4 linked regions of the Homo sapiens genome follow. Each later gene encodes a partner of the first gene's protein in a complex. Each region holds a gene or a part of one and is shown on either strand. Other genes may lie near its edges. The genes, in order: FLNA, ITGB2, FBLIM1 and CFTR.

The links.
Region 2: the proteins of FLNA (region 1) and ITGB2 are in contact, whole or in part, in a crystal structure (PDB 2JF1), measured with the Homo sapiens proteins. Residues at the interface, in NP_001104026.1 of Homo sapiens: Val2241, Thr2263, Ala2266, Gly2267, Ala2268, Gly2269, Gly2270, Leu2271, Ala2272, Ile2273, Ala2274, Val2275, Glu2276, Gly2277, Pro2278, Ser2279, Lys2280, Ala2281, Ile2283, Phe2285, Phe2311; in NP_000202.3 of Homo sapiens: Leu753, Phe754, Lys755, Ser756, Ala757, Thr758, Thr759, Thr760, Val761, Met762, Asn763.
Region 3: the proteins of FLNA (region 1) and FBLIM1 are in contact, whole or in part, in a crystal structure (PDB 4P3W), measured with the Homo sapiens proteins. Residues at the interface, in NP_001104026.1 of Homo sapiens: Met2207, Gly2208, Thr2263, Arg2264, Gly2267, Ala2268, Gly2269, Gly2270, Leu2271, Ala2272, Ile2273, Ala2274, Val2275, Glu2276, Gly2277, Pro2278, Ser2279, Lys2280, Ala2281, Ile2283, Phe2285, Cys2293, Glu2306, Phe2311; in NP_001337080.1 of Homo sapiens: Lys7, Arg8, Val9, Ala10, Ser11, Ser12, Val13, Phe14, Ile15, Thr16, Leu17, Ala18, Pro19, Pro20.
Region 4: the proteins of FLNA (region 1) and CFTR are in contact, whole or in part, in a crystal structure (PDB 3ISW), measured with the Homo sapiens proteins. Residues at the interface, in NP_001104026.1 of Homo sapiens: Thr2263, Gly2267, Ala2268, Gly2269, Gly2270, Leu2271, Ala2272, Ile2273, Ala2274, Val2275, Glu2276, Gly2277, Pro2278, Ser2279, Lys2280, Ala2281, Ile2283, Ser2284, Phe2285, Asp2287, Phe2311; in NP_000483.3 of Homo sapiens: Ser10, Val11, Val12, Ser13, Lys14, Leu15, Phe16, Phe17, Ser18, Trp19, Thr20.

The regions. Positions count from the first base shown.
Region 1 is NC_000023.11:154,357,635-154,364,634, forward strand, and holds part of FLNA (filamin-A), read right to left. Parts: coding exon 6,892-7,000; intron 6,739-6,891; coding exon 6,625-6,738; intron 6,532-6,624; coding exon 6,388-6,531; intron 5,151-6,387; coding exon 5,027-5,150; intron 4,945-5,026; coding exon 4,784-4,944; intron 4,699-4,783; coding exon 4,608-4,698; intron 4,515-4,607; coding exon 4,345-4,514; intron 4,154-4,344; coding exon 4,036-4,153; intron 3,937-4,035; coding exon 3,674-3,936; intron 2,954-3,673; coding exon 2,356-2,953; intron 2,272-2,355; coding exon 2,098-2,271; intron 2,013-2,097; coding exon 1,850-2,012; intron 1,773-1,849; coding exon 1,612-1,772; intron 1,521-1,611; coding exon 1,350-1,520; intron 935-1,349; coding exon 811-934; intron 722-810; coding exon 565-721; intron 1-564. UniProt on the Homo sapiens protein: Promotes orthogonal branching of actin filaments and links actin filaments to membrane glycoproteins. Anchors various transmembrane proteins to the actin cytoskeleton and serves as a scaffold for a wide range of cytoplasmic signaling proteins.
Region 2 is NC_000021.9:44,889,900-44,896,929, forward strand, and holds part of ITGB2 (integrin beta-2 isoform 1 precursor), read right to left. Parts: intron 5,162-7,030; coding exon 5,072-5,161; intron 3,646-5,071; coding exon 3,505-3,645; intron 2,098-3,504; coding exon 1,910-2,097; intron 324-1,909; coding exon 79-323; intron 1-78.
Region 3 is NC_000001.11:15,768,789-15,775,818, reverse strand, and holds part of FBLIM1 (filamin-binding LIM protein 1), read right to left. Parts: intron 5,411-7,030; coding exon 5,241-5,410; intron 1,202-5,240; coding exon 1,023-1,201; coding exon of another isoform or gene 788-1,022; exon of another isoform or gene 598-787; intron 1-597. UniProt on the Homo sapiens protein: Serves as an anchoring site for cell-ECM adhesion proteins and filamin-containing actin filaments. Is implicated in cell shape modulation (spreading) and motility.
Region 4 is NC_000007.14:117,483,006-117,490,035, reverse strand, and holds part of CFTR (cystic fibrosis transmembrane conductance regulator), read right to left. Parts: intron 1-7,030. UniProt on the Homo sapiens protein: Epithelial ion channel that plays an important role in the regulation of epithelial ion and water transport and fluid homeostasis. Mediates the transport of chloride ions across the cell membrane.

The sequences.
Region 1 (7,000 bases):
AGGCAGGGGAGGCAGTTGGCCCAAGCCCGAGTAGCCCCGGGCCTGCCTCAGGCGCTCCCAGAGTGCCCAGCGCTGCTGCTACAGGGACAGTCTCTGGGCCTCAGGCATCTTAACTGCTATGGCCCAAAAGGGCTGCCTGCACCTGGCAGAGTCCAGAATGGAGACTAAAACATCCCACACTTCCCACATGACAACAGGCGCGGCCAGCCAGCTTGGCACCCATCCTCAGCCCCAGGGCCTGGCCAGCACTAGGAGGAGCTCACCGGGGTGATCTCAAGCTTCTATCCTATACCTGCCCCATGAGAATATTACAGGTGGGGAAACTGAGGCACAGAAGGCTTTGGTGACGTGCTCAAAGTTAGCAGCAAGTGCACGTCTGGGGAAGCCTGTGCCTGTCACCACCATCCTAAGGTAGTCACAACCTTAGCAAACCAAAGACAGGGGCCCTGTCCTTCCCTGCCCTCCTTGGTGCAGCTCCGCAGGGAGATCAGACACCAGCCACCCGCAGCCCACACTCCAGCCGCCCAGGCCCCCCTGCCTCCCCTGCCTGTGCCCGGAGCTCACCGTGATCTGGACAGCCAGCAGGCCCTCCCCGGCGTCCTTTGCATCGATGGTGAACTCCACGGGCAGGCTGGCAGGCACGCCAGTGGTGTTGAGCCCGGGGCCACTGGCCTTCACCTTGCTGGCATCATGAGTAGGCAGCACCTTGACCTTGAAGGGGCTGTGAGGGATTGGTGTTGTGAGCAGTCAGACAGGTTCTCAGCATCCAGCCTGGGCCACTCCCCACAGGCAGCAGGCCCTGCCTCTTACCTCCGGGGTACCTCTTCATCTCCATACAGTACTGAGATGCTGTAGGGCCCTTCTCGGCTGGGCACATAATTGACGGTCTGGGTGCCATCAGCGTTGTCTACCACGTCCACTGGCTCCACCAGGCCTGGCCCCAGCCCCAGGGACAGAGCATCAGCTAGTCTCCTGGGCCTCCATTCCTACCCCACCACACTGGACGGCCAGGACCCAGCCCCAGGCCTAGACCTCGCTTTATCCTCATCCACCCGACCCTGGGAATGGCCTTGACCCCCTCTGGCACGAAAGACACCCATCTGGGTGCCAGCTGGGACCCTTGCCTGCCTGCCTTCCTGCCACATCTGCTCAGTGACCAGTCCCATCTGCTCTACCTCCTCCAAGTCCCCCACCTGGCTGCACTGTCACCTGAGGCTCTTCCAAAAACACCTACACACTTGCACCACCTCTGCACTCTGGTCCTCACTTTGGGCCTCCAGTTTCCTTTCCCGGCCCTCAAACAGGACACTGCCCTCCTGACCCCTGGCTCCAGGCATGCAAACACTCACCTTTGGGCCCTTGCACTTTGACCTGCAATGGGGCCACACCAGCCTTGCTTGTGTCCACCTGGAAGGACTGAGGGAGGTTGGCACGAACCATGCCTGGGCTCAGGCCGGGCCCAGAGCACTTGACCTTGGACGCATCTGTCACATCATGCACAGGGACCTTGAAAGGACTGCCTGAGGGTTGGGGCAAAGGGATGGCGGCTGTATGAGACAGGGTGGGGACGAGCAGACAGTCCCAGCCCTGCCCTGGCCGCCACCTCCTCACCTGGCACTTGATGGCCACCATAGGTGACGTTGAGGCTGTAGGTGCCAGCCTCATAAGGGATGTACTCGACCGAGCAGCTGCCGTCCTTGTTATCCATGCAGGACATCTTGGCCTCGGAGGGGCCCTCTACAGCCAGGCCCAGGCCGCCCGTGCCAGCTCCCCTGGTCCAAACAGACAGCCGGTCATTCCTGGGGTTCCCAGGCCCACCAGCCACACGGGCTCCTGGGGGCTCCCTTACCTGGTCTCCACAGTGAACTTGTTGGGCTTGTTGGTGGTGCCACTTTGGATGCCTGGCCCGTGGACACGCACCCGGGAGGGGTCGCAGCCCTCGGTCACGGGCACCTGGAAGGGGCTGCTGGGCACGGGACTGCCGTCATAGGTCACGTCCACGGAGTGCAGTCCTGGAGGAGTGCAGGCCAGGTCAGGAGGAGCCCGGGCCACCCCACCCACCCCGTCTGCCAGCCTGTGGGAGTCCCCAGCACGCACCCTCCTCGTAAGGCGTGTACTCCACTTTGTACATGCCATCGCCACGGTCCTGAACGTAGGTCTCCGTCAGGTTGCCTGAGGGGTTGGCCACACGGGCCTTGACGTGCGGCCCTCCGGTCTGTGTCAGAGCCCGGGCGTCCACACTGAACTCAGTGGTGGCCTCACGGAAGACACCTGCAAAGGCACAGAGAGGAGGCTTGGGGCTCGGGGGTTCTGGTCCCTGTCCCCCGTCACATACCCCACGGCAGGGCAACTCACCCTGGCCCTCAATACCAGGCCCATAGCACTGGACACCGGAAGTGTCCACCGCAGGTTCCACCTGCAGCTTGCTGGGGAAGTTGGGCACGGGCTGGCCGCCGTACTTGATGGTGACGGTGTAGGCCCCGGGGCAGAGGGGAATGTAGGTAATGGTGTGCGTGCCATCACCGTGGTCCTGGATGTACACCTCGGCCGGAAGCCCCGCCTCCGAGCAGATCTCAATGGTCAGCTCCGCGCTGCCCGCGCTCGAGCAGTCCACTTGGAATTGGCCCACCTCCCCAGCGGTGGCCCGCTCCAGCCCGGGGCCTGAGCACTTGACTTTGGATGCGTCAAAGCAGGGAACCACGTGGGCCTTGAATGGGGAGCCAGGGATGTGGGTGTCAGCGAAGAGGATGTTGATGTTGTAGTCCCCGGGCTCGGTGGGCACGTAGGACACGGAACATGTGCCATCCCCATTGTCCAAGCACTCGAGCTGCGCCTCACAGGGGCCCTCCACCGTCAGGCCCAGGCCACCTGTGCCGGCGCCCTTGGTGTCGATGGTGAAGCGGGCGGGGGAGCCCGCACTGCCTCCCTGCAGCCCCGGCCCAAACGCCTTCACCTGAGGGAAGAAGGGGTCAGGAGCCAAGGCCACACTATGCCCCGATCCCAGACCTCCTGCTTGACTTTCCACCTGCCTCCCCTTGCCCTGGCTTCCTGCCCTCACCAAACAGGGACACGGGCGGGCCCAGGCTGCCTGCCAGATGGGCCATCCATCAGTCATAAGGACAAAAAGGAGGGCAGGGCGCGGTCACTCACGCCTGTAATCTCAGCCCTTTGGGAGGCCAAGGTGGGTGGATCACCTGAGGTCAGGAGTTTGAGAACAGCCTGGCCAACATGGTGAAATCTCGTCTCTACTAAAATTACCAAAATTAGCTGGGCATGGTGGCGGGCACCTGTAATCCCAGCTACTTGGGAGGCTGAGGCAGGAGTATTGCTTGAAGCCAGGAGGCGGAGGGTGCCGTGAGCCAATATCGCGCCACTGCACTCCAGCCTGGGCGACAGAGTGAGACTCTTTCTCAAAAAAAAAAAAAAAAAAAAAAAAAAAAAAAAAGAAAGAAAAAAAAAAAAAAGAAATTCTTCAACCCTGATGACTTTTTGTGGGTTTCTATTTCCCTCCTCCCCTTTACTCTCACTTAAACAGGGTCAAGGTTGACAGTCTGTCTCAGGAAAAAAAAAAAAAAAAAAGGATTTAGGGCAGGTCTGGAGAAGATGGGGTACCTTTGGGGCCCTCAGAGAGCACAGTGGGTTCTACCCTTAGGGCCTCCCATACCCCAATTACCTTGCTAGGCTTGGTGGGGGCCACAGCTTCCAGAGGAAAGGGGCTGCCAGGCACGGGCACGCCGTCATAGGTCACCTCCACCTCATAGGGCCCTTCCTCACGGGGCAGGAAGCGCACCACACTGTTGTCAGCCCCCAGGCCTGGCTCCACCTTGCAGGGCACCGCTGCACCCGAGGGGCCCACAATCTTGGATGCCACTTTGCCTTGACCACCAGCACCCTTTGATTTGACTGTGAACTCCTGGTCTTTGCCAACGTCCACCTCTGTGGAAACGATGAAAGGAAGGAGAGAGACATGACACCCAGCTCAGCCAATCCCTGGATGTGACAAAGGCCTTTGCGACAAGGGCCCCAACTACTTACTCTCTCCCAGGCCAGACACCTTGATCTTGCTGAGGTCCAGGCTTGGAGATACTGCCACTGAGAAAGGGCTCTTAGGGATGGGATCCCCTCCATAAGTGACATTGACGCCTACTGGACCCTGGGAAGGGTGCAGAAGGGAAGGGGGTATTTAGAGACACCAGAATTGCTCCCCAACCCCCTCCTGGACCTCCATGCCTGTCCTCTCCCAGGTAAGGAATGAGAGTGGGCAGAAAGTCCCTCGGAGCTGTCCCCTAGGCTGCTGCATGAGGAGGCTGGGGACTCGGTGACTGTAGTGGAGGGTGTGGCTACCTGCTGGACAGGCGTGTACTTGACTGTGTAGGTGTTGTCATGGTGGTCGATGATGTCCACATCTCGCACTGCATCCCCCTTGGTGAGTCCTGAGAACTGGACGTCCAGCTTGCCTTTGCCAGCAGCTTTGGCATTTACTGTGAAGTGGGTGGGCTTGCCAAGCTCGACACCTGAGGAACACACAGGGACCATGTAGGGGCACCCTGCCCCAAGCCCTCCTACCCTTGATGCCCCGCAACCTGCCATGGGGTACCTGTCCTCACCAGTGCGACTGAGGCCAGGGCCCTCGGCCTTCACCTTACTGGCGTCATGAGAGGGCTCCACCTTGACTCGGATGGGGCTGGTGGGCGTGGCCTGCAGGCAGTGGGAGGAGAAGGCCTTAGAGGAGGGCAGACGTCATCCGCAATGACATCTTAGCGGCCAGGAGCGCAGCACCCACCTGGTCAGCAAAGAGGACCATAATGGTGTAGCTGCCAGCCCCCCGGGGCGTGTACTTGACCGTGAAGGTGTCATTGTCATTGCGGATGATGTCGAAGTCGATGTCAGCTTCGGCGGGGCCTACCACTCCAGGGGCACACTTGATGCCGATGCTGACGTCCCCTGCGGCGGGGAGAGGAGCGGAGGCTGAGACCTCGCAGGGACACCCCAGCCACCTGCCCTCCCACCCACAGCCAGGCCTTACCCTGGCCAGCCTCGGCGCAGTCCACAGTGAAGTAGGTGGGCTCGTGGGCCTTGAGCCCTGTCTTGGCTACTCCGGGGCCGTATACTTTGACCTTGTTGGGGTGGCTGCCAGCTCCCACATTCACCTGCAGGGCACAGGGGCAAGGGCAAGGGCATGAGCAGCCTGGAGGAGACTCAGAAGCTCCCTCAGCTACACTGGCAGGCACACAAAATGGTCCAGCTGCCTTGGGAAGAGTCTGGCAGTTCCTCAGTTGACCACAGAGGGACTGTGTGATGCTCCGGTTCACTCCGAGGCAACTACCCAAGAGAAATGAAAGCAAATGTCCACGCAAACACCTGGACTCACTGTTAACAGCACTGTTCATGATCACCAAAGGCAAGCTCATCCTCAATATCTGTTAGCAAGTGAACGGAAAAATGGAATGTGGTCTGGCCACACAATGGAGTATTATGCGGCCATAAAAATAAATGAAGCGGCCGGACGTGGTGGCTCATGCCTGTAATCCCAGCACTTTGGAAGGCCAAGGTGGGCGGACCACCTGGGGTCAGGCGGTTGAGACCAGTCTGACCAACATGGAGAAACCCCGTCTCTACTAAAAATACAAAATTAGCTGGGAATGGTGGCGTATGCCTGCAATCCCAGCTACTCAGGAGGCTGAGGCAGGAGAGAATTGCTTGAATCTGGCAGGCAGAGGTTGCAGTGAGCTGAGATCACGTCATTGCACTCCAGCCTGGCAATAAGAGCAAAACTCCGGCTCAAAAAAAAAAAACCAGGATGGGCGCGGTGGCTCATGCCTGTCATCCCAGCACTTTGGGAGGCCGAGGTGGGCAGATCACAAGGTCAGGAGATCGACACCATCCTGGCTAACACAGTGAAACCTTGTCTCTACTAAAAATACAAAAAATTAGCCGGGGGGGTGGCGGGCGCCTGTAGTCCCAGCTACCCGGGAGGCTGAGGCAAGACAATGGTGTGAACCTGGGAGAAAGAGCCTGCAGTGAGCCGAGATCGCGCCATTGCACTCCAGCCTGGGCGACAGTGTGAGACTCCATCTCAAATAAATAAATAAATAAACAAAATAATTATAAAGGAACAAAGTGCCAAGACATGCCAAACATGAACGAAAACACGGAAAACTTCGTGGTGAGCGAAAGAAGCCAGACACAAAAGGCCACATGGCACACAGTTCCATCTATAGAACATGTCCAGGATAGGCAAAGCCACAGCAGAAAGCAGGTTAGTGGTCACCAGGAGCTGTGGGACAGGGGAGTCAGGATGGTGTGCCACAACCACTTGAAATGGACGAATCGTGTGCTACGTGAATGCTATCGAGATGGACTAAAGGCCGGTGGAGGTTGGCTCACCCTGAAGGGGCTGTTGGGGATGCTGACGCCTCCCCAGGACACCATGGCTGTGTGCTTCACCGGCTTCCTGGGCACGTAGGAGCAGCTGTAAGTGCCATTGCCGTTGTCCTTGACCAACGCCTCCACAGGGCAGCCTTCATTGTCCTGTCAGGCAGATAGGAGCAGGTGGCCTGCTGGTCAGTGCCCAGGCCTGGGTGCCCACACCTGCCCTGCCCCCAACACCCGTGGGTGCTCTACCTGGACTTGGACCCGAAGTGGGGCCTTGCCACCGTGCTTGGCATCCACTGTGAACTCTGCTGGCTTGTTGACGGCCACACCTGTCTTCTCCAATCCAGGCCCACGTGCCTTCACCTAGCGGGAGACCACCCAGCTGTCAGGGGGCCAGGTCCAGGCTGCCAGAGCTACAACCCAGGCAGGGTGGCCAGGGACACAGAGTGCCATCCCCACCAGACCCCAAGCAGGAGCAGCAGGGCGAGACTTAGGCCATCACAGCCTGCTCTTTACCCTGTCTGGGTGGAAGTCCTGGGGCGCGTCACGGATGTCAGCCATGAAGGGGCTGAGGCGGATGTCTTCGCTGTTGCACAGCACGTGAACGGCATACTCGCCAGCCTCC
Region 2 (7,030 bases), on another chromosome or scaffold:
AATGGTCCAGAACGCACCCCCCAACACCAAGTCTGTGCCGCAGGACGGCCGTTGTCCAGCAGGGACCCACGGGCTCACCCGGGCCGCCGCAGACCTGGCCGTTGTAGCGCTCACAGTTGATGGTGTCACACTCGCAGTACTGCCCGTATATCAGCTTGCCGGGGACGTCGCTGGTGTGGCACAGGCACTGCCCGCAGACACAGTCCCCCAGCCCTGAGCAGATGATGGAGTTGTTGTCCTTCCGGCAGCTTCCTTCCAGCTCCTGGCTGCTCCGGCCCTGTGTCTGGCACTCACAGTTTTTCCCAATGTAGCCAGTGTCACACCTGGGGACAGGAGGGGCCCCAAGGTCAGGCTCCCCCCAGTGATGTGGGACAAGGGACAGCCGCCCTGTCCTCCAGGCCCCTTGCCCTTGGTGGAGAACACCCCTATGGCACATTTTGCTTTCCTCGAGGCCTACTGAGCACTTGCCACGGACTAAATGTGCTCAAAACGTGCAGGGGCCCCGCGTTCCCTCCCCAGGATGTCCCGAGGGGAAAGCAGACACCTGGCCTTGGCCTGCGCATGCAGTGGCTCGGCAGGCTCACTGTGGAGCTGTGTTGCAGCCATGCACATGGCCTGTGCTGCGATACCGGTGCTCTGTGAGTGGCTGGTGTCTGCTCCTGCGTGCCCCACATGGTGGCCAGTGGGGACTCGGCACTGCCTCCTGCCACAGCCCCGCCCTCCCTCCTGCGTTCGTGCACTGACAGGCCAGGTTGTGGGAGAATGCAGGGACAAGGGGTTTTTACAGATGTGGAAGCTGGCATCAAGCCGCTGGCAGGCAGGAGCCACACACACCCTGAGGCATCCTCAGAGACGGCACTGCCACGGGCTCTCCTGCTCCCCAGAGGAGGAAGCTGCAGGACCGAGTGTCTGAGTACCTGTGGCAGGGCACCCCCCGACACCTGCCAAGTGTTCCGACTGAGTCACCCCTACAGTCCCGTGAAGAGGCCGCCCCAGGGCTGCACACCCAGGACAGTGGGCGGGGTGGCCACTGAGGCACGAGGACAGCAACAGAGACCACCAAGACCACAGAGACCATCATTGTCCTGAGATATGGGAGGAGGCTGGGGGCAGCAGGGACCTGAAGGTGAGGAAGGGCACTGCCACCAGGACGTGGATTGGCACTGCGGTCAGGACAGGGGAGGAGGTGACCAGAGCAAAGGGGGCAGAGTCCTGGGAGGTCAGCCTAGCAGCTCTGGCCAGGCAAGCAAGGAAAGGGGGACAGCCATCCAGCCCCCGGGCAGGCCGCCTGGCTGAGTGCCATGTGAACCTCCCCACTGGGTCCACCTGTCCCCCACTTCTCCCTGAGGTGGGGTGCCCACGCCTGGCAGGGGGTGTGCACGCCCAAGAGGTGGCCTATGGGGCCCAGGCTCCCAGAAGCCATCACCTGTCCCAGGAGGCTCTCTAGCCACCCATGCCCCAGGGCTGCCAGCCTGATGGCCTTGGGTCCCCAAGGTCAGAGAGAAGCCAGCTCCTAGGGTCAAGGAAGGTCGGGCAGAGAAAGTGACCCACTCAAGGCCATGGGCACGCCCAGCGGGGACTCCTTGTGCCCCTGAGATGGGCCTCCATCCTCTGGTGAGGGGGTCCTCCTGCCCACAAGTCCCCTGCCTTGGGTCCTCCATGGCCAGAGAGTGTAGAGTACAGGCTGGCATTGCTGGTGCCCTGGCTCAGGAGCACGGGTGAGGGCTTGCCGAGGGGTTCTGGGTTCCAATCCCAAATCTCCCCACCTCCTGCAGAAGGGGGCCCCCAGGATGCCTGCTCCGTGGGGTGGGGGAAGGGATGGAGCCACCTGCACCCACCTCACCTGCCGACACCTGCCCTGTGGGGTGGGGCTCGGGGATGGTTCAACAGGGACCTGCGCCCGCCTCACCTGCAGATGCCGCACTCCAAGAAGCCCTTGCCATGGCAGAGGCTGCGGTCTCTGCTCTGGTCCCGGCACCGGCACTCACACTGGGGAAGAACCTGCACGGTCACTATGTCCGTGAAGCCCAGCGCCCGGATGACAAACGACTGCTCCTGGATGCACTCTGTGGCCGTGACCTTCACCTGGAAGGTGATCTGCAGGGCAGTGCTGGGCTCAGGTGGGGACCCTCGGTGGCCAGGGTGGCAGCCCAGCTCCCAACCCTCACCTCCTGGCCTCTGCAGGGGTCCTGGGGGGTTCAGCGTGGGGAGGAAGGGGTGACCAGGAGCAGGAAGAGCTGATGCTCAGATCCGAGAGCCAAAGTCAGCCGGCAAGGAGGTGCTCTGCCCGCACTCCCGCACTGGCCGGCACCAGGATCTCCCCGGCCACACATCAGCAGAGACATGTGACACGCAGACAGCAAATCAGGAGAAGCTGAGCACACTCCCACTCAGACCACCCAACATGAGGGAAACGTTCTGGTGAGAATCCATGGGACAGCTGGGCGCCGCGGCTCACGCCTGTAATCCCAGCACTGTGGGAGGCCGAGGCGGGTAGATCATCTGAGGGCAAGAGTTTGAGACCAGCCTGGCCAACATGGCGAAACTCTGTCTCTACTAAAAATACAAAAATTAGCCGAGCGTGGTGGCACACGCCTGTAGTCCCAGCTACTCAGGAGGCTGAGTCAGGAGAATCACTTGGATTGTAGTGAGCCAAGATCGCACCAGTGCACTCCAGCCTGGGCGACAGAGCGAAACTCCATCTCAAAAAAAAAAAAAAAAAAAAAAATCCACAGGCAACATTTACCAAGAAACATGTTTGAAGGAATTCCAAAGTCATATTAAGAAAATGCAATGAAAGCAAGTGTCTTGCTGAATATTATTTCACAGCTAGCAAAAAAAAAAACAAAAAACAAAAAACAAAAAGAAACAACAAATGATTGGATAATAAACTTAAACCTGAAAGATTAGAGAAGGAACTCAGTGTCCATTCCTAACCACCTGTGTGGCCCATGCCTTAATGTTTCTGTCAAAAAAACAGAATGAAACACGCAGAAAATCATGACAACTAACCCTACCCAGGTTTGCCGTTTGCGCCTGTTCTGTGTGTCCGGCGTCTGCCCCCAGGGGGCGCAGCCATCACTCCATCCCTCAGTCTGCAGTGGCCTGACCCAGGGATTTGGGCTCCAGGTTGATGAGTAGGACTCTTGGGGGCCAAGGCGTGTGTGAAGAACCCTCCCAGCACCCTCTCACTGAGAAGCACCCTCTCGGCACCCTCTCACTGACGTTCCTGACATCAGCTTCACAAGGAAAGCGTCTGGCCTCGGCAGAGAGGATGTGAAGGAAAGAAACAGGGTCCTTCCAGTGGATGCTGCCTGCTCCCAGACAGCCTCTGATGCCTGTGTGCCCCTCCCTGCCCCCGTCAGAGTGCTGGGATGGGGACCCTGGCTCCTTCTGGCTGTCCCCAGGACCCCTCAGTGTGCTGGGATGGGGACCCTGGCTCCTTCTGGCTGTCCCCAGAGCCCCTCAGCAAGCTGGGATGGGGACCCTTGTGGCCAGGCTCACCGGGACATTGATCTGCACGCCATCACAGTCACCTCTGGGCTGGTTCCTGTGCGTCACTCCATTGCTGCAGAAGGAGTCGTAGGTGACTTTCAGGGTGTCGGGGAGGGCGTTGTGATCCAGGAAGACCCTGGAGGAGAGTTTCTGCGGGCAGAGAGCGGTTACTCTTGGGGGCGAGTGTTTCTGTTGTCCTGGCCCTGCCTGGCCCAGCGGTTTAGACCCGTCTCCACTTCTCCTCTCAGTGCAAGTCCCCAGTGTCAGCTAATGACACAGAGGAGAGCACAGCAGGATGTGCTGAGGATGGCAGGGCTGCCAGGGCCACAGTCCTGCCCTCGAGACAGCCTGACCACAGGGACTAGCATGGAGCCAGGGTGTGAGCCTCAGGGGTGGGAGCTTCTGCTGCTCCTCAGCCTTGAGTCCCCAGGACCTAGCACAGGGCAGGAGCTGCATAAATTGTTCAAGCGATAAGAGAGATGGGGAGAAACAGAGAGAGGCAGAGACAGACAGAGATGGGCAGAGCCAGAGCCAGAGACAGAGAGATGGAGAGAAACAGAGAGAGGCAGAGACAGAGACAGACAGAGATGGGGCAGAGACAGAGAGAGACAGACAGAGAGAGACAGAGAAAGAGAGACAAAGACTGAGAGACAGACGGAAATTGAGAGGAGGCAGAGGGACAGGTTCATAGGGGCATCGGGTGAATGGCCAGGGCAGTGGCGTCACCTGCATCCTCTGTGTAAGGACAGAAACACCTCGGGCAGTGGCTGGCACCCAGGAGGGTCTGCTCTGGGGGTTTGGGGCTCACGGGAGGCTACGAGAAGCAAATGGCACCTCCTCCACGGGCCTTCAGTTTAATTCAATGACCCAACGTTTGTCGGAGGCGCTAACGTGCTGAGCTCCCTCAAGCCAGCAGGACCTTTGGCCTAGAAGGATCCAGGCCAGAATTCTGAGAACATCTCTCACCTGGGGGTAGATTTCCAGAGCAGTCGGGACCTCTGGTGCCTGGGGCCCTGAATGGCACCTAGTGCGCACCTATGCCTACCTATGCCCACCAGGGCCATGGGCTCCCCAGGGGAGCAGCCCAGGGTGCAGCTCGATGGGCCGTGCACCAGGGAGAAATTCAGGGGTTAAGGGCTTCTCTGGAGCTTGCCCAGGACAGGTGAACAGAGCAAGAGGAATTCCACCCCCCAGGGTGTCTTCCCAGGGCCCAAGTCCACTGTGGGGGTTTCCTGTGGCCTCCTCCTGCCCCAGCTGCACTGTTTGCCACCAGAGCTGTCCACCTCCCTTCTCCATAGAGACCCGCAGAGAAGAGTCTGGAATGAAGAGTCCGGAGCTCAGGTTTCAGGGAGCATCGCCCACAACATCAACGAGAGAGGACCCAGAGCTCCCCGTGGAAGTGCCGGGCCAGGGTGTCCTGGAGGCCTGAGGGCAGGTCGGGAGGCTGCAGCTGGCCCACGGGGCAGGGGCTTTCCTCCCAGACCACCCTCCTGCTGACCTGCAGCAGGAGCTGACCTGCAGTGGGGAGATTGCTGGCCACCCCATGGGTCCCAGCTGAGTGGTGCGGGAGACTCACATTGTAAGCATTCTTAATGAGATGGACCACATTGCTGGAGTCCTCAGACAGCTCCCCCACGGCTGACTTGGGGATGATCTCGGTGAGTTTCTGTTGGGCAAGAAGACCAGACATGGCACGGCTAGGACCTGTGCCACGGCATCTCCACGCACTGGGCTCACCCCAGGGGCTTCTGCACCTGCAAAATGGCTGGGACGGTCCTCAACGCAGTTTTGCACTTGGTCCCCAGAGTGTGTGGTCAGTGATGTGTGGTAAGAGGTTCTTGGGGGTAAAAAGCCCTGAGCTGCCCAGGGGCCACGCCTGGAATACCAGTACTCGGGAGGCCGATGTGGGAAGATTGCCTGAGCCCAGGAGTTCAGGACCAGCCTGGGCAACATAAGAAGACCCCATCTCTACAAAAAGTACAAATATTAGAGTGGTGTGGCGTCACATGCCTGTAGTACCAGATACTCGGGAGGCTGAGGCAGGAGGATCACTTAAACCCAGGAGGTGGAGGTTGCAGTGAGCTGAGATCGCACCACTGCACTCCAGCCTGGGCGACAGAGCAAGACCTTGTCTCAAAAAAACAAAACAAAACAAAAAAAACCCAGGCCAGGCATGATGGCTCACGCCTGTGATCCCAGCACTTTGGGAGGCCAAAGTGGGTGGATCACTGAGGTCAGGAGTTTGAGACCAGCCTGGCCAACATGGTGAAACCCCGTCTCTACTAAAAATACAAAAATTAGCTGGGCGTGGTGGTGGGCACCTGTAAGCCCAGCTACTCAGGAGACTGAGGCAGGAGAACCCAGGAGGCGGAGGTCGCAATGAGCTGAGATCACACCATGGCACTCCAGCCTGGGCAACAAGAGCAAAACTCTGTCTCAATAAAATAAAATGAAATGAAATGAAATGAAATGAAATGAAATAAAAAAATAAATAAAATAAAATAAAATAAATAAAAAATAAAAAAAAAATTACTGTTGCATCATGAGGATAAGAAAAGAAAGCAAAGCCCTGAGCTGCAGCATTGTCCAGGCCTGCCCGTGTGAGTCCTCCTGCCTGCGGTGTGAGTGATCCCGCCTGCGGTGTGAGTGCTCCCGCCTGCGGTGTGAGTGATCCCGCCTGCAGTGTGAGTGATCCTGCCTGCGGTGTGACTGCTCCCGCCTGTGGTGTGAGTACTCCTGCCTGTGGTGTGAGTGATCCTGCCTGGTGGATTTCAAGCTCGCAATATCACTGGGTTGGGAGGACGTGCATGGTGGCCAGTGTTGGCCAGAATTTCCACCACACAGGTAGGGAATTCCTACCACCACACAGATGGTAGGCGGAAGTAGCCCCACGAGGGTGGATCACAGTAAAATCACCAGGAAGCCATCGGCTCTTGGCACTCTACTGAGTTTCCATGGGTGTTAAACAGCCCGGTGACATCGGTTCTGGCCGGCCAGATGCACAGGGGCGCAGCCAGCCTCCCCCATGCTCACACATGCTCAGCTTCTTTCATGGAAGATTGCGGCATCATTTCACCTTCCAGGAACACGGAGCAGATGGTCGGGTCACCTCCCCGCCCAAACCCTCCCATGACTGCCCTGCATGGGCCCAGTCCCTTCCATGGAGCTCCTGGGGCCGGTCACAGCCTGGCCACCACCCTCCTCTGCGCCCTCCGCCCACCGCCCACTTCCATCCGTCCCAGTCTGGGGCCATCCCTGTCTTGGGAGAGCTGGGCCCTCCCACATCCTGTCCTGCTGAGCCTGCTGTGCGCTTGGTGCAGAAACACACTCGGAGGGGGCGTGGCACGTGTGTCCACACTCGCTGCCTGTTGCCTTGACCACCCCCGAAGGTGACCAGGAAAGGCTGAGGAAGGCTTGTGTGCCCCAAGGCTCAGCAGTAGGCATGGGGTGCACTCTACCTGCCTCCAGTGCCTGGCCCTGGTGCCACACCATCGCCTGGAGTCTGGCTGCCATGACAAATGGCAAAGGATTGGGA
Region 3 (7,030 bases), on another chromosome or scaffold:
AGGTTTCCCTCTCAGTTTATTAGCTTCCACCATACCCTTTTCCTCCAGCCGAATTTCTACTGGGTGGTCAATCATGCCTATCCAATGACGTCTCCATAGAAGGCCCAAGAGGACAGGGTTCGGGAGCTTTCAGGTGGCTGAACATGTGGGGGTTCCTGGAGGGTGGCACACTTGGGGAGGGAGGGCATGTAAGCTCCTTGCCCCTTCCCCTAGACCTCATCCTAGGCATCTCTTCACGTGTCTGTCTGTATCGCTGTAATATCCTTTTCTTTTTTTTTTTTTTTGAGACAGAGTCTCACTCTGTCACCCAGGCTGGAGTGCAGTGGTGCGATCTCGGCTCACTGCAAACTCCACCTCCTGGGTTCAAGTGATTCTTCTGCCTCAGCCTCCCAAGTAGCTGGGACTACAGGCACACACCACCATGCTCAGCTAATTTTTGTATTTTTTGTAGAGATGGGGTTTTACCGTATTGGCCAGGCTGGCCTCAAACTCCTGACCTCATGATCTGCCCACCTTGGCCTCCAAAAGTGCTGGGATTACAGGTGTGAGCCACTGCCCCCAGCACTGTAATATTCTTTTTTTTTTTTTTTTTTTTTTGAGACGGAGTCTCACACTCTGTTGCCCAGGCTGGAGTGCAGTGGCGTGATCTCGGCTCACTGCAAGCTCTGCCTCCCAGGTTCACGCCATTCTCCTGCCTCAGCCTCCCGAGTAGCTGGGACTACAGGCGCCCGCCACCATGCCTGGCTAATTTTTTTTGTATTTTTAGTAGAGACGGGGTTTCACCATGTTAGCCAGGATGATCTCGATCTCCTGACCTCGTGATCCACCCGCCTCGGCCTCCCAAAGTGCTGGGATTACAGGCGTGAGCCACCGCGCCCAGCCCAGCCCTGTAATATTCTTTATAATAAACCAGTAGACAGGAAACTCTGGCCCAGCACCCAGGACTCAAGCTCAGCTCCTTCACCCTGCTTGGGTCTCGCCCTGTCCCTGCACCCCACCCAGTGCACAAACCCTTCTCGTACCTGTAGAAGTCGTCCAGGCAGTACACCTCGTTCTGGCTGCCCAGGGCAAAGCTCTCATCCCCAATGCACCGGGCGCAGGTCACACACGTGAAGCAGGAGGGGTGGAAGGCCTGGCCCAGGGCCCTGATGATGTGGTCCCGGACCACCTCGCCACACTTGCCGCACCTCTCCAGTGTGTCCTAGGACAGAGGCCACTGCCAGAACCATCCACGACACACCCACCCCAACCCACGAGGGTCGTCTTCTTCTGAGAGGCTGCCCTCAGGGGCCCAGGAACTGGGAAGTACAGGAGAGGCCTGCAGACAACCTGTAACTATCGCCCAAAACCTCCACCATTGCTTATAACAAATTGAGCTTAGCCTTGCATCCTTGGCTTACAGCAAGGAATACTGCCCTGATGCCCTGATGCTATGGCTGCATTTCTTGTTACTGGGATATGTTTATGGCCAGGGTCCACAGAGCTATAGGAGAAACCTCGCTTAAACCTCAGGGTCAGGAAAAGGAATTCTCAGGAGAATTGGGTGCTTTATCATACAGACAAGAAGACTTGAAATTCTTTCCCTTTTCCATTTGGCCACTTGGAAGCTCAGAGCCAAATTCCACATTTCACGTTTAGAAACCATTATAGGGCTTTTTTGTTGTTATTTGGTTCTTGTTTTGTTTTGGGACAGAGTCTCGCTCTGTTACTGAGGCTGGAGTGCAGTGCCCCAATCTCAGCTCACTGCATCCTCTACTTGAGGTTCAAGTGATTCTCATGCCTCAGCCTCCTGAGTAGCTGGGACTACAGGTGTGCGCCACCACGCCCGGCTAATTTTTTGTAGACACGGTGTTTCACCATGTTGGCCAGGCTGGTTTCGAACTCCTGACCTCAAGTGATCAACCCACGTTAGCTTCCCAAAGTGCTGGGATTACAGGCGTGAGCCACCGTGTCTGGCTTCCTCACACATTTTGGGTAGTAACATTCCCTTTGATCTCGTCTCACTTTCTATTTTGATTTTCCTTCTGTTTGGATGTCTTTATTTTACATATCGTAGTATTATTGCAGTCTTTAAAAAATTGTTTTATTGTGGGAAGAACACTTAACATGAGATCTACCTTTTTTTTTTTTTTTTTTTCTGAGACGGAGTTTTGCTCTTGTCAATCAGGCTGAAGTGCAGTGGCGCAATCTTGGCTCACCACAACCTCGTTTCCCGGGTTAAAGCAATTCTCCTGCCTCAGCCTCCCGAGTAGGTGGGATTACAGGCATGCGCCACCACATCCGGCTAATTTTTTGTATTTTTAGTAGAGACGGGGTTTCTCCATGTTGGTCAGGCTGGTCTCGAACTCCTGACCTCAGGTGATCTGCCTGCCTCAGCCTCCCAAAGTGCTGGGATTACAGGCGTGAGCCACCGTGCCCAGGCTTTTTCTTTTTTTTGAGATGGAGTCTTGCTCTGTTGCGCAGGCTGGAGTGCAGTGGTGTGATCTTGACTCACTGCAGCCTCTGCCTCCCGGGTTCAAGTGATTCTCCTGCCTCAGCCTCCCAAGTAGCTGGGATTACAGGCACGCACCATGCCTGGCTAGTTTTTGTATTTTTAGTAGAGACAGGGTTTTTCCATTTTGGTCAGGCTGGTCTCGAACTCCTAACCTCAGGTGATCCACCTGCCTCGGCCTGGCATGAGCCACGGCACCTGGCCAGTTAACATAATTTTATATGATGCTTTAAGAAGAAATGCGCCAGGCAAGGTGGCTTATGCCTGTAATCCCTGGACTTTGGGAGGCTGAGGCAGGCAGATCTCCTGAGGTCAGGAGTTCCAGACAAGCCTGGCCAACATGGTGAAACCCCCGTCTCTACTAAAAATACAAAAAATAGCCGGGCGTGGTGGTGGGCAACTGTAATCCCAGCTACTTGAGAGGCTGAGGCGGGAGAATCACGTGGAATTTTTCAGTGCACGCATGTTATTGTGGTCTATAGGTATATATGCATTCTCTTTAAAAACATATTTTAATAAAAAAATAGCTATATTAAAATAGAGATGGAGTCTTGCTATGTTGCCCAGGCTCGTCTTGAACTTCTGACCTCAAGTAATCCTCCCACCTCAGCCTCCCAAAGTGCTGAGATTGCAGGTGTGAGCCACCGCGCCTGGCTGGTATACATGCATTCATAGAAGCTGCCTCAAATTCCTTCTGGAATGAGGAGCAATGACAAAGAGATTCCCGAGGCAGGGCAGTGGGCTTCCCTCTAGCCTTTCCACCTTTTCTCCTGGACATGCTGTCTCTCCTTCCTGGCTGTGCTCCTGTGCATTTTACCTTGACCTCACCTGGACACGTGTGGGGGCATCTCCCACTCCCCCCTCCCTCTCATGGGCATGGCCCTTCTCTCCCCAGCACACTGCTCAAGTCTTCCTCCTGGCTGCTTCCTGCTTCCAGCTGGACACCCCTCCTCCCCTGGTGTCTCACCCCTGAGGAACACTCCCCCATGATGTTGATGGGGTCACAGGGACACGGCAGGGAGGGCCTGGCTCCTCTCTCTTCCCACAGTGCCTCACTGGTGGTGAGCCTGGGATTGGATTGTTTGGATTCTTCTGGAGAGTCTCAGCTCCAAATACTCTAACCCTTCAAATCAGCCGTTTTCAAACTTCTATATGCATGAGAATCACTTGAGACACTGATTCAAAATGCTGATTTCCAGGTGTTCCTCATTCATAAGCACAAAGAGTGGCCTACACATCCCCAGGGGATGCGGCTGTGGGTGGTCACCACACTCAACATGCCACCACAAACCATCCAAGAGTTAGAAATTCCAGTGTGCTGGCATCCCAGCTGGCTCTCCCAGATTGCACTTGGTACCCGGAAGCAACACAGATTCCCGTGAGATCAAACATTGGAACCCTGTGGCTCTACTCTAGGGGAGATAGTGGCAAGACTGATGGCAGGCTCCAGAGCCAGATGGGTGTGGAGTAGAATCCCAGCTCCTTGGCCATCTCGTGTGACCTCGTGTGGTAGCTAAGAGATGCCCCCAAAGATATCCAGTCCTTATCTCTGGACCCCGAATGTTACCTTGCCCGGCAAAAGAGGCTTTCAGATGGGATGAGCTAAGGATCTTAAGATGGGGGAGATTATCCTGATTATCCAGGTGGGTCCTAAATGCCATCGCGTGTCCCTGTAACTTGACACAGAGGTGACAATAGGGCCGCTGAAGTGGGATGCTACACTGCTGGCTTTGAAGCAGAGGAAGGAGTCAAGGAGAATGCAGCTTCATAAACTGCAAAAGGGGCCAGGTGCGGTGGCTCACACCTGTAATCCCAGCACTTTGTGAGGCCGAGGGGGTGGATTCCTTGAGGTCAGGAGTTTGAGACCAGCCTGGCCAAAGTGGTGAAATCCCATCTCTACTAAAAATACAAAAATTAGTTGGGCATGGTGGCAGGCACCTGTAGTCCCAGCTACTCAGGAGGCTGAGACATGGGAATTGCTTCAACCCGGGAAGCAGAGGTTGCAGTGATCTGAGATTGTACGACTGCACTCCAGCTGGGGTGACAGAATGAGCCTCCATCTTAAAAAAAAAAAAAAACAAAAAAAAACAGGCTGGGCGCAGTGGCTCATGCCTGTAATCCCAGCACTTTGGGAGGTCGAGGTGGGTGGCTCACGAGGTCAGGAGTTCAAGACCAGCCTGGCCAAGATGGTGAAACCCCATCTCTACCAAAAATACAAAAATTAGCCGGGTGTGGTGTCAGGTGCCTGTAATCCCAGCTACTCGGGAGGCTGAGGCAGGAGAATCCCTTGAACCTGGGTGGCCGAGGTTGCAGTGAGCTGACATCGTGCCACTGCACTCCAGCCTGGGCGATAGAGTGAGACTCCGTCCCCCACCGCAAAAAAAAAGAAGAAGAAGAAGAAAAAAAGAAATTGCAAAAGGCAGAGATGTGGGTTCTCCCTCAAGCCTCCAGACAGCACACCACCTTGGTTTTGGCCCAGTGAAGCTGATTTTGGACTTTTGATCTCCCGAACTGGGACAGAATAAACGTGTACTGCTGGAAGCCACGAAGGTTGTGGTGATCTCTTACAGGCAGCCCTAGGAAACCAATCGCCTTCACTGGGCTCCTTCTTTCTGAGCCTCAGTTTCCTCATCTGTGAAAGGGGTCAATAGTGCCTACTTCCCAGGACTGTGTGGGGAATGAAATGGTGCAACATATTCTAAGTGCTCAGCTCACTGCCTGGCACCCAGAGGTCTGCTGCAGGGGTTACCTGGTAGCAGGGTTCGCAGAGGGGTCGCCCATCCTTCTGGTAGAAGCTCTGCCCAGCCAGCTGGCGGCGGCAGGTGCGGCACGTGAAGCACTGGGCATGGTACTGCCTCTTCATGGCCTCCACAGCCAGCTCTCGGGGGGACACGGTCTTGTGGCAGAAGGCACAGATGTCTGGGGTAGGGGAGACACAGGCCATCACCAGCCCAGCCTGTGAGGACTGTACCCAGGCACCACCCAGAACATGCTCAGGATACCCGAGGCTCTGTCTTAAACCCTGCAAATTCCTCAAATGACAAATACAGAGGGTCATGAGGAGCATTAAAAAGGAATCTGAGTCAGGCATGGTGGCTCACACCTGTAATGCCAGCACTTTGGGAGGCCAAGGTGAGCGGATCACTTGAGGACAGGAGTTCAAGACCAGCCTGGCCAACATGGTGAAACCCCATCTCTACTAAAAATACAAAAATTAGCCGGGCATAGTGGCATGCCCCCGTAGTCCCAGCTACTCATGGGGCTGAGGCAGGAGAATCACTTGAACCTAGGAGGCAGAGGTTATAGTGAGCCGAGACTGTGCCATTGCACTCCAGCATGGGTAACAGAGTGAGGCTCTGTTTCAGGAAAAACAATAAAAATTAAAAAAAATAAAGAGCCCGGCGCGGTGGCTCACACCTGTAATCTCAGCACTTTGGGATGCCGAGGTGGGCGGATCACAAGGTCAAGAGATCGAGACCATCTGGCCAACATGGTGAAACCCTGTCTCTACTAAAAATACAAAAATTAGCTGGGCGTGGTAGCGGGCGCCTGTAGTCCCAGTACTCAGGAGACTGAGGCAGGAGACTCGCTTAAACCCAGGAGGTGGAGGTTGCAATGAGCCAAGATCGCGCCACTGCACTCTAGCCTGGTGACAGAGCAAGACTCTGTCTAAAAAAATAAAAATAAAAATAAATAACATAAATAAATAAGGAATTCTGGACAGCAGTTTCAGGACAAAGGGATTGTTGGCTGCCTTGACCTCCCAAAGTGCTGGGATTACAGGCATGAACCACTACACCCAGCCAGGAGCCACTTTGTTTATTTATTTTATTTTATTTTTTTATTTTTTTGAGACGGAAGCTCACTCTGTCACCCAGGCTGGAGAGCAGTGGCGCAATCTCAGCTCACTGCAACCTCCGCCTCCTGGGTTCAAGAGATTCTCCTGCCTCAGCCTCCCGAGTAGCTGGGATTACAGGCACACACCACCACACCCAGCTAACTTTCGTATTTTTAGTAGAGACAGCATTTCACCATGTTGGCCAGGCGGATCTCGAACTCCTGACCTCAGGTGATCCACCTGCCTCAGCCTCCCAAAATGCTGGGATTATAGGCGTGAGCCACCACGCTCAGCCAGGAGCCACTTTATATTCTGATGTGTGACCAGCTCTGAGATGTACGAAGGAAAGAAAGTGAACAGCAGAAGAGCCTAGTTTGCTACTTATGGAAAAATGGGGGGAGGGAGCAGGTGGACACATATTTGTATTTGCTCGTATGTGCATAGTGTCTTTGGCAGGATACATGAGAGCTCAATGACAGAGGACACCCATCTGGAAGGAAACCGGGTGGTAGGGGGATGGGGCAGGTTGCAGGCTTCTCACTGTGTCCCCACTCATGCTGTTTATTTTGCACTGTGTGAGGGCATTAGGTGTTCAGAAAATAAAATAGTGAGAAAAAATTCAAGACATTTTTGCTATCATAGCAAACTGCAGACTAACATTTTAAATAGAATTTAGGTATAAAGGGAAAAAGGCTAAAGCA
Region 4 (7,030 bases), on another chromosome or scaffold:
AAGTAGAATATGAGATCATTTTCTAAGGATACAAATGGCTGGAATGGGGACACAAGGGAAGATCAGGAACAACCAAGATGGGGGAAGAATTAAGTCAGTGGTTTTCACACTATGAGCCCCAATACCTAGTGTTCTCTAGAAATATTTCAGTGAATTCACCAACTTCTGATTTGAAATGTATGTATTTTAAAATATTATTTTATAGACAGGAACCAAGAAAATCACACATTCTCAAATGTAGGACTATATGTTAATTTTAGCACACTAGATTGATCCGAACATGATCCTGGGCTGTCAGGCTTGTTTAGTATTCACTATGTAGGAAAGCTTCTGCTGACATCTCCTTGCACATATTTAAACCTGTTATGATCTGTTATTGGTTATCTCTGCACTGCATTAGTGAGCATGTCACTACACCATATGTGGGCCAAGCTCAGTTAACAGCCCATCATATCTTTGACATACCTGTTTGCATGAGGTTTCATCACAGCATAACAGAGTTGTACAACACTCAGGGAACAATAATAAGCCACATATGATATTATCATGGTTTTATAATACTTTATCATGCGTACTTGCTTTAAGGTGATATTGGTTATAGAATTTACCATCAATTTAACAATAGCCTTTCCAAAAAGAAGCACTACATTAACTATACACAGTTTTTAGAAATTAACAATATTACATACTTATTCATGCAATCACCTACCACTTTCTTCTTCAGCATCGTAATTAAAGTTTTAGTCTAAGCGTTCTTCATATTCAGAGCAAAAATATTCTTCTGAGTCACTCTCAGCCTTTCAGAGCTATGAATAGAGTTACAGTGACAAACTGCATTCATAACACCTTCACCTGTAGGACAGGCAGTATAATTTCAAGGCATAATAAAGTGCTGAGCTTAGGCGACTTCTACTTTAATTACATTGCTTAGTATGTCAGACAAACTTCAGACTAAATATTACCTGTTTTTTTTTCAAAACTACATCACAAAGTAATTTATCCCAAGAAATTTCAAGCAACAAACTAAATTTATTTAAGAGTCAACCTTGTGGGATGCAACCAATGCAAATAATTCAGCTGAGGTCACAGGAGTATATATACCTTTATGTATTGCTAAGTTCCCATATTACAACTTATTCCTGGGCCTTGTGGCTGACAAGTTTCTTTTGACATCAATTATAAAAGGCATCTCGATTTCAGAAACATAACACTGTGAAAAACACAACCATGTAGGATCAAGAAAATTACATATAAATGTTATACAAAATCACTGTAGCCTTTACTTTAGAGCACTAGGTTAACTGTTTCTTTGTATTTATGGGAGAGTTATTATCTTTTATTGTCACTGCTATTTGTATACACTGCGGTCCCATGGAAAATTTTATTTGAAAATTGATTACAGTATTGTTTTTTAAAAAAATTGTGAAAAACATTGCCCTGGGAAAATGCAAGACACAAGATAGATAAGATAGAGCCTTTGCCTTGAAGGACACATTAAAAGATGCATATTCCAAAAAAAGAGGCAATGAAATGGTCAACAGAGACTTATAAGTCAAAAATTATTCTGGACAATAATCTAATAACTGTTAAGCTACCATTTTCTTCTTCTGAAAAGTCCATTTTGCATGTCTAAATGTTTCACTTACTTTTAAAATTATTCAGTTACCGAAAAAAAGTTATAGAAGACTTAAAATTTTTTCTAGATTTTATTTTAAACTAAGAAAGACTAAAAACTGTATCTTTTAAAGCATATTGCAATAGAATTTAAATAAAGAATATTTTGCAACATGTAAAAGTTATATGAAATTCAAATTTTAATGTTCATAATAAAGTTTAATTGAAACACAGCCATGCTTATTTGTTTGCATATTGTCTATTGCAGAGACTTATGTGGCCCACAAAGCTGAAAATATTTACTATCTAGCCCTTTACACAAAAAAGTATAGCAATGGTCTTTGGTCGAAAAAGTGATGCTTTTGTGTTGGTATTGTTGTTTTAATTTCTAGAGTTTATAGAGATGTTTAAAATAAATAAAACGTACAAAGGGAGCCCCCTATATAGTTTCTCCACCTTGCTTCCTCTAGAACTGTGGTTGCTAATCCCAGCCAACATAGGCTTCATTTTCTTGTCACACCCATAACCAATGCTGGACTCTAAGGTTTAGCCCTTGAATCACCTCTTAATACAGCTGTCAGTACCCCTGGGATTCTGCCTATTATGCTTAATTTTCACACATTTGTCTGACTGGTATCAAATGAAATTCTAGAGTCCCTTTTTGAAATTATTAAGCCTTCACTAGGCATTTGGGAGTAGATGTGAAGTCAGGTAGGAGGTAGTTGCACCTCTGTAGTCCATGCTAAGAAAGAGAACTCTGCATATTTAACAAAGCTCAAAGTTTTAACATAAAACAAGGATACATAACCTTTTCAAAAGTAATGAAAACCTTCTTTTAACACACACAGAAACCTCATCATAGTAGGTGAGCTCCTATTTTTATTCAATCACTGGAGACAATATCTGAAGTCCCAAGCAGATTTTCATACCACATTGAATTTCTATGATCTCTCATATGTTGTGTCCCGTGATGTGAAAAGCACTGCCTAAAGGAGTGAAGTTATCAGGAGGTTCAGACATCAGTTAGCAGGTTATATAGGAGAGTTCTAAGTATAATTTCTAAGTAGAATTTAACCAGTACTGTCCCTAGAACTCAGCTGCTTCTTCCTAACACTCTCAGGTCACACTATGCCACAATAAGGCCAAACAAGTGGGCACTCTACATATTTATAAAACTGTCACCTCAGACATCTTATATCTCTTACCTAAGACTAAGCTCTAAATCACTTTAATACATTTTCAAATAACCATATTACCTAACCCTGAGCCATATACATCATTTCCGTTTCTGGTTTTGAGAGAAGTAGAGTCACATAGGTCTGCACTCCTGCTCCATGCCTTCTTCTCCGATTAAATTTTCTCATTCAATAAGCAGCACCACTGTCCCCTCTATTATCCAAATCAACAAATATAGATGTTATCCTTAACTCTTCTCTTTCCTTCACCTTCAACTACTAATTGATTACCAAACCAGTTGATTTTACCTCCTAAATGTCTTTCAAATCTCTCTCTCTCTCTCTCTCTCCCCGCCCCCTCCCCCCCACCCCACCCACCTCCACCATGGCCACTCTTTCAGCTCATCTTTTCTTTTACAAAACTGCAACAGTATATGAACTGATTATGTCCCTCTCCTGTTTAAAAGCCATGGCTTTTCACTTCCAGTATGATAAAGCCCAAACAAAGCCTACAAAGCCTACAAAGCCCCCTTACGATCTGGCCCCTGCTAGAGTTTCCAGACCCATCTCCCACAAATCTCTGTCACATATTTTATGTTCCCGTCATAGGGAACTTCTCAGGATATTTTGAAGGTGCCATGCTTACTTATCCTGTCAGTCCTCCACACTACCTGTTTAAATTTTTCCTAGCCCATCCCTACCCTCTTTGGATAATTCTAATTGAATAACCTCCTTTAGGTGTGAATACAAAAGACACTTCCCCCAGCAAGCCTTCCTTGACCAGCCTTAGACTGGGTTAAGTGCCCCAGTTGAGTACTTCAATGAAGCCCTCGAGAAAGCTGGGTTTCAGATAATTTGTTCCATAAAGGCAGCAACAATTTCCTTCTTGGCCACCTCTACCTTCTTAACGTCTCACATAGAATACAGAATATGAATGAGGTCATCTTCCAGGTTACCCAGAATCATGACCTACAAAGGAAGTACTGCTGTATCTCAGCTCCTTGGAGCAAGCTATGGGAGAGTTTTCTGGCTATATCCAGGCATAGCTTCAGGCCTGAGTAGTCCTAATAATCCTACGGACCTAGCAAAAATCTTCATTTCCTTACCCCATGAGCAAGAAATTAGCAAGCATGCTATCCTACAAAGGCTAAGGCAGAAGGGACACAAGAAAACTTCGATGGAATAATTGTTCTAAGCATTAAAAATCTGCCCACAGTCCCACTTGCTTTGACCCCTTTTTATCAAAATGATGCCAGCACTGCAGGACTGTTGAATGTCATCGATCTACAATAGACACAGGTCTCTAGGGTTGATCACCATGAACTCATTAACATCACAAAAAAATCTTTATTAAATTGTTCCACGGAAGAGTCTTGAAATGGTCTGAATATCATACTAAACAAATTAGAAAAGGCCCTGACATCCAGAGCTTTACAATTTGGAATCATAATTTATGTCAAAAGATAATAATAAGTTAACAGAGCTGCACAGAAAAATAGCAAAGTTGACAAGCCTTGCAACTTGAATACAGCTGTGAAAAACTCTGAAAAAAGATTTTTCAGAGCTCTGTAGGAATGTAATTCTCTACATCAAGCAATCTAAGAGTAAATTAAATTTTTACAAGCTTCTTGCTAAAAGAAGCCTAAGCTCTTTGCTGACACAATGCCCTACAGTAAAGCCGTAAAGCCACTCTGTAATGCTAATTTCACACTGAAACAACTATGTGGTAAATTGATTCTAGAGCTCTGAAGAGAACCAACAGAAATAGCAATGTTTTCCTCCATGATAATGCACTTGACATATTTGTAAATTAATCTTTCTACAAGATCTCCAAACAACTTGATCTTTATCATAGTCTGTTTTCCCCTTTTGACCTCATTGCATCTCAGAGGTTTTTCTCCAGGAAGATGCCCTACACAGATGCCTCAGGATCAAAATTGCCAAAATTGCTGCTGAGTCAGAGATGTTTTTAACGTTTTGACAACCAACACATAACTGCATGCTAAATAGTTAACACCCTTCCTGATGGTTTTGCAATACTATACTTATATTGTAGCTCTATCACACTGAAATTATAGGCTCTTGTGAAATGACACTAGCAATAATAATGCATTTTATAGCAGTACTCACTCAAGGACCTTTAAACAAGTGTTAACATTTATGTATTGAATATTATTACACTAAGTTCCACTCCCTCCCATAACACATAAATGGAAAACTGGAAAACCGTGATTTCCCTAGTGTAACAGTTAGCTCTGAGGGATATTTTGACTGTCACATCAAACATAAAATATTGATGAAGTAGCTAAGAAAAATAGATTCCACTTCTCTCTTTAGCAAGGAATTAAATATTAAAACTACACTATTCCTTATAAGTATATAAGAATATTACTTGAATCAAGTGATTAATAATTTAACTAGCATATAAAAAACTATAGGAATAAACTTCAAAACAAAGGAGAACTTTTTAAAATTTGCAAAATTAAAAGAAACAATTATATAATTATATATACAAAGATATTTTACATATACAAAGATATTTTATATATAAATAAATGTAATTATAATTTTTGTCATATATCAGGTACAGGAGGTACTTTTAGAACTCTGAGAGTTAAGCTAATCAAAATTAATACAAAATTAACACAGATTCCCAGCTGAAAAATCTCAACTGTGTAATAACAAAACATGGTCAGCAAAAGGATAAATAGAAAAGACTATTGAGGGACTGGTGTAGAAAGTCAACATTTGTTAGTGTTCAGACAACATTGTTCAAGACAGAAGGGCTCCTATCCCAGAGGTGGGCCCCTCCAATTCCTATAGGATGTAAAGCCAAGAGAGAATATGGAAACCCTGGGCTGTCCTCATTGATGGCATTTGCCCATGGACTGACTAAATGGAGTCATGGTAATCGGGAATGCTTGGCAGTTGTATATCACAATATAATTGTTCAACACATATTGGCCTTTGTTTTATGCATCTATTTTATTTTGATTTGGATAACCTAAGGTTTTTCTGATAGACAAACCTGAGATAATGTGTATGTATTGATCAGACCTAGACTAAACCCTTGTTTGGGTAGCCAACTGGTCTTCCTTGGCAACACTTTTACAAACACCCTCAACAAACTGCAAAAATATTTATGGCTTAGCCATAATTTTAGCTTTCCTCACAAATTGCAAACATGTAAATAAAATGTAAATACAAAATCATCATGATGAATTTTTAATAGTGTATCATAATTTATATAACCAAATAAGTGTGGTCCCATTCAAAATGGTCATCTTTATAAATCTTTCATAGTATAATTTTAATTATACTTCCATTGCTCAAAGCACTTATATTTCTCTTCATTAAGCACTGTCTTTAGGCTGACAGGGTGAGGTGGCTTACGCCTGTAATCCCAGCACTTTGGGAGACTGAGTGGGAGGATAACTTGAGGCCAGGAGCTCCAAGAGCAGCCTGGGCAACATAGTGAGATACTGTCTCTATATAACTTAAAAAAAAAAAAAGTTAGCCAGGCATGGTGGTACACACCTGTACACCTGAAGACCCAGCTACTCGTGAGGCAAGATGGAAGGCTCACTTGAGCCCAGGAGGTGGAGGTTGCAGTGAGTTATGATTGTGTCACTGCACTCTAGCCTGGGCAACAGAGTGAGACTCTGTCTTTTAAAAACAAACAAACAAAAGAATTGTCTTTAAAGTTTGCAATGCATTTTTTTTTAATGAAAACACCTAAAATTAGGTAGCACTTGGCTGTTAACAAAGGAAATTATGATGAAAAATCTTTATATTTTCAGAGTGAATTTGATTTTGTGATACAGTCAAAAGTCACTTGGAAGCAAGTCCAAGAGACCAGTCTGGGTAATATAATTTTTAATCTAAAGCAAGCTATGAATATAAAACAATAACAATAAAATAATGTGGCTAATATATACTTATGAGAAGAAATTTATGTATTATTTAGAAAGGCAATTTCATAATAAGAGACCCAAAATTATTTTGATCAAAGGCAAATGTTTAGAATAGGAGTGTGGTTTTTATTAGATAGCTATTTTGAACCACCATACCTATTCTGATATATAAATTCAGGTGTATTTGTTTGTTTTAAAATCTCTCATTACTTTGTGTTTAATAATTACAAAAGTATCTCAAATTATCTTACTGTTAAACTCGAGACTTAGACTATGTGATTCTTTGCTGAATTTCCACCTTAGATCCTAACAATATTTTACTCTTTG